Regions from separate parts of the Homo sapiens genome. Here region 2 is linked to region 1. The links come from fine-mapping of genetic effects on gene expression. Tissue or cell type: nasal epithelium. Region 1 holds a variant in brackets; the other region holds the start of a gene. All regions are shown on one strand. Distances are between the middles of the regions.

What was found. PIP is the estimated chance that this variant, and not a neighbour inherited with it, causes the effect.
Region 2: TTL starts here. The variant in region 1 is fine-mapped to the expression of TTL in nasal epithelium (TOPMed, PIP 0.97).

What each region holds. Positions count from the first base shown.
Region 1 is chr2:112,508,033-112,510,714 of GRCh38, reverse strand. All of the region lies in intron 5 of TTL (tubulin tyrosine ligase), which reads right to left. Among named protein-coding and RNA genes, the nearest start is that of TTL, 27 kb to the right of the region's middle. The variant G/C (reference allele first, on the strand shown) is at 1,332.
Region 2 is chr2:112,480,617-112,483,298 of GRCh38, reverse strand. TTL (tubulin tyrosine ligase) reads right to left here and starts at 1,143. Exons shown (of 7, transcript NM_153712.5): 1 at 798-1,143. The coding sequence starts at 954. RefSeq lists silencers at 373-472, 1,033-1,422 and an enhancer at 1,743-1,812.

The DNA of each region.
Region 1 (2,682 bases):
TTATTTTTTTAAAAAAGAAATATCTCAACCATCCTGACCAACATGGAGAAACCCCGTGTCTCCTAAAAATACAAAATTAGCCAGGCATGGTGGCACATGCCTGTAATCCCAGCTACACGGGAGGCTGAGGCAGGAGAATCGCTTGAACCCAGGAGATGGAGGTTGCAGTGAGCCGAGATCGTGCCATTGCACTCCAGCCTGGGCAATAAGAACAAAATTCTATCTCAAAAAAAAAAAGAAATATCTCAAATCAATTATTTAAACTTTCACCTTAAAAACTGGAATAGGCTGGGCATGGTGGCTCACACCTATAATCCCAGCACTCTGGGAGATCAAGATGGGAGGGCTGCTTGAGCCCAGGAGCTTGAAACCAGCCTGGGCAAGACAGTGAGACCCAATTCTACAAAAAATAAAAAAATTAGCCAGGCACAGTGGTGTATACCTGTAGTCCCAGCTACTTGGGAGGCTGAGACAGGAAGATCCCTTGAGCCTAAAAGTTTGAAGCAGCAGTGAGCTATGATCACACTTGTACTCCAGCCTAGGCAATAAAATGAGACACCATCTCTTAAAAAACAAACAAAAAGCACAACTAGAAAAAGAGTAAATTATATCCTCCAAAAAGCAAAAGGAAGAGAATGATAAAGTGCATAAATCAAAGAAGCTGAAAAGAAAAACAACAGAGAAAACCAATAAAACCAAAAGCTAATTTTTTGAAAAGACTGATAAAATTGATAAATGTTTAGTCAATCTGTCCAAGCAAAATAGAGGGAAAATATAAATTAGCCAGGCATGGTGGCTTACGCCTGTAATCCCAGCACTTTGGGAGGCCGAGGGGGGTAGATCACCTGAAGTCAAGAGTTCAAGACCAGGAGGAGGAGCCAAGATGGCCGAATAGGAACAGCTCCGGTCTACAGCTCCCAGCGTGAGCGACGCAGAAGACGGGTGATTTCTGCATTTCCATCTGAGGTACCTTACCGGGTTCATCTCACTAGGGAGTGCCAGACAGTGGGCGCAGGCCAGTGTGTGTGCGCACCGTGCGCGAGCCGAAGCAGGGCGAGGCATTGCCTCACCTGGGAAGCGCAAGGGGTCAGGGAGTTCCCTTTCCGAGTCAAAGAAAGGGGTGACAGACGCACCTGGAAAATCGGGTCACTCCCACCCGAATATTGCGCTTTTCAGACCGGCTTAAGAAACGGCGCACCATGAGATTATATCCCACACCTGGCTCAGAGGGTCCTACGCCCACGGAGTCTCGCTGATTGCTAGCACAGCAGTCTGAGATCAAACTACAAGGCAGCAACGAGGCTGGGGGAGGGGCGCCGGCCATTGCCCAG[G/C]CTTGATTAGGTAAACAAAGCAGCCAGGAAGCTCGAACTGGGTGGAGCCCACCACAGCTCAAGGAGGCCTGCCTGCCTCTGTAGGCTCCACCTCTGGGGGCAGGGCACAGACAAACAAAAAGACAGCAGTAACCTCTGCAGACTTAAGTGTCCCTGTCTGACAGCTTTGAAGAGAGCAGTGGTTCTCCCAGCACGCAGCTGGAGATCTGAGAACGGGCAGACTGCCTCCTCAAGTGAGTCCCTGACCCCTGACCCCCGAGCAGCCTAACTGGGAGGCACCCCCAAGCAGGGGCACACTGACACCTCACACAGCAGGGTATTCCAACAGACCTGCAGCTGAGGGTCCTGTCTGTTAGAAGGAAAACTAACAACCAGAAAGGACATCTACACCGAAAACCCATCTGTACATCACCATCATCAAAGACCAAAAGTAGATAAAACCACAAAGATGGGGAAAAAACAGAACAGAAAAACTGGAAACTCTAAAACGCAGAGCGCCTCTCCTCCTCCAAAGGAACGCAGTTCCTCACCAGCAACAGAACAAAGCTGGATGGAGAATGATTTTGACGAGCTGAGAGAAGAAGGCTTCAGACGATCAAATTACTCTGAGCTACGGGAGGACATTCAAACCAAAGGCAAAGAAGTTCAAAACTTTGAAAAAAATTTAGAAGAATGTATAACTAGAATAACCAATACAGAGAAGTGCTTAAAGGAGCTGATGGAGCTGAAAACCAAGGCTCGAGAACTACGTGAAGAATGCAGAAGCCTCAGGAGCCGATGCGATCAACTGGAAGAAAGGGTATCAGCAATGGAAGATGAAATGAATGAAATGAAGCGAGAAGGGAAGTTTAGAGAAAAAAGAATAAAAAGAAATGAGCAAAGCCTCCAAGAAATATGGGACTATGTGAAAAGACCAAATCTACGTCTGATTGGTGTACCTGAAAGTGATGTGGAGAATGGAACCAAGTTGGAAAACACTCTGCAGGATATTATCCAGGAGAACTTCCCCAATCTAGCAAGGCAGGCCAACGTTCAGATTCAGGAAATACAGAGAACGCCACAAAGATACTCCTCGAGAAGAGCAACTCCAAGACACATAATTGTCAGATTCACCAAAGTTGAAATGAAGGAAAAAATGTTAAGGGCAGCCAGAGAGAAAGGTCAGGTTACCCTCAAAGGAAAGCCCATCAGACTAACAGCGGATCTCTCGGCAGAAACCCTACAAGCCAGAAGAGAGTGGGGGCCAATATTCAACATTCTTAAAGAAAAGAATTTTCAACCCAGAATTTCATATCCAGCCAAACTAAGCTTCATAAGTGAAGGAGAAATAAAATACTTTATAGACAAGCAA
Region 2 (2,682 bases), 27 kb after region 1:
GTCCCCTCCTATCTCCTGCGCTTTCCTACCCGTGGACATGTGGGTATGGTGGTGCCCAGCCAGCTTCAACCATGTGGATGAAGGTAATTCCCTCGGGGAGAGCAGGGAAGACAGGGAGGGCGAACGCAGCCTCGTGTAAGATCTTAATCCAATGCAGAACTGCGAAAACACATTATTTGGTGAAACTAAGGAAAGGTTTATAATCAGACATCCCTCCACACTTCCCTGGGCTAGGGTCTCTTCTGCAGCTCCTGCTTTTGGAATCCGGGGGTCTTTTCCAAATCCTCTGATCGCTCCTCCGCGCCTTCGGGGGGCAGAAGCCTCAGGGGTTTCAACACCTACGGCTCCCCCGCCCGCGCCCACGCCAAGCAGGGAGAAATCCTCAGTGCAGACGAGCTGCAAAAGATGACTCCAGCCGCCCGCTCTGCGGAGCCGCGCCCAGCGCGGCGGACCCGCCAAATCTGGGGGCTTCGGCCCGGGGGAGCCGCTAGACTCGCGCCTCAGGTCCCAGCCCCGGCGGCCAGCGTCTCCCGGGCTGCAGGGACCGGTCACCGTCGGGAGGTAGCTGCGGCCCCGAGTGGCCGCACCGCGACTCCGACTCTAAATCCAAGTTAGGAGACAAGAAAGCATTAAAAACGACAGGTTTCGATCTTTCCGAATCCGTTTCTGATGTGCCCGACAAGCGACAGAGGAGAAAATGTATGACCTTTAAAAACAAAAGCGCCGGTTCTAACGGGCCGCGGGAGGCGCGCAGGGCCGCTCCGAGGAGGGCAGACGGGAATCGGGGAGGGGCTCACCCAGTCTCCCGAAGGGCAGCCGATTCCTCTCTCCCAGCATCAGGTTGAATCTGGGGTTGTCTCGCCGCAGCCTCTTCCAGTGGCCGGTGGCGAGGAGCAGCCGGGAGACCTCGGCGTAGACGCTGCTGTTCTCATCGCGTACCACGAAGGTGTACATGGCGAAGCGCCGCGCGCCCGGGCCGCCGGGCAGCCGCCGCAGGGACCAGGCGGCCGAGAAGGCGGCTCAGCGCGGACCCCGCCCGGGCGCCCGCCGCGGCCCGGCCCCCGCCGCCCGCGCCGGCTACCGCGCCTCTCGGGTGCCGGCGGCGCCGCGCCCGGGCGCCCGCCGGGTGCCGGAGAGGAAAGCGCCGCTCGCACGCCCGCCCCCGCCGGCGCGGCCCCGCCTCTGTCCCGTGATTCCGCGCGGCCCGGCCCCGCCGCGCTCTGGAGGAGCCCGTGGGCGGCGGCGCCGCGCCCTTTCCGTACCCTCCCCCGGGGGCGGCGGCGGCGCAGGGTTGGAGACCCGCGGCGGTGGGCGCGGCTTTACCGCAGCGGGCGGACTGTGCGGTGGAACCGGAGCCCGGGCCTGGGGTGGTTCTTTCCGAGCCCCGGGTCGCAGCCGGGGGGCGGTGCCGGCGGAAGATCCCAGTTTGCAGGGCTCGATCTGGGTTTTTCTTCTATTGCCAAAGGACCTTTAATGGATAAAACCCAAAAGTTCTAAGGCCCGGTCCTGTGGCCTAATGAAGAAGCGCTTCCTCTTCCTCTTTGCTTAACGACTACGGAGACCCGGAGCGTCGGTTTTGTTTGTGTCGAGTGCTCCTTCCTTCGGCTGAGCCCAGGGTGGCGCACGGCCAAGGGGATGACCTTAGACTCTGCTGGTGGAAGCAGGTCCCAAACCGACCCCCTGGAGCCCTGGGCTCCGCTCTTTTCCTGCCTTTTACCGGCATTCAGCCACTTGCTTTCCCTTCTCCGGACCTCGATTTCCCCTTATGAGCGGCGGAGAGTGGCTCTTAAAAGTCCCTTCGGTTCTGATAGCCCACTCTGAAGACTGTGCTGCTGCATTTGAGATACAAAGAGAAGGCAATGATCATCAGAGCTCCCCCAAACTTCCTACAGTCCCTCATAAATTACCCACATCAGCCCTGCGCCTTGCATCTTTTACTCTCCTGTAGATAAAGAACACCCTGGGGCCTCTCCCCTTCCTGTCCCCCGATGCTCACGGTATCTACCCGAGCACATTGTAAAAGCGCCCTTCTCCTTCCCATCGTTGCCCAGATTCCACGGGGCCGCCAGGCGCTCACTCGCCTGTCTTGCGCACCGGCTCCACCTGCAGGCAACCGCTGGCTGTGGAGAGCCCGCTCAGAGCAGAAATGGGGCAGACTTAGAGGTGCTGGGTGCTTGCACTCCTTCCCAGCTGCTCTCCCTCCACGAGGGATAGAGTTGGTCGAGAATGCCCTGGCCCTCTCGCCCTCCGCACGTGCCCTGCGGGGAGGCGTGTGTCCTAGGCGTATTGCGGTGGTCCTCTGTAGGCCACGGCTGCGGTTGTCCACAGCTGCAACTTGCTCATCAGGGCATCTTCTGTTGGCTTCCTTCCTTTCCCTGACTACCGATGTTTCCTGGGATCACCTCCCAAAAAAACTACTGTACTCGTGCTCAAATTCTTGTTCCAGGGGGCACCGTTTGGGGGAACTCGAGCCAAGACGCTGTGTTTGCCGCTCTTCACGGCTGATCACCTTGAAAGTGACGTCCACTCCCACCATGCTGCATCAATTCCTCCTGCGACTCCTACTGACGACTCCTGTGCCACAGGTGGCTTCTCTCTGCCACTCCACAACCGTGGATCTCATTAGGAACACCAGTGACCTTTGAATTTCCAAATCCAGAAGCTACCTTTTTCCTTTTTCTC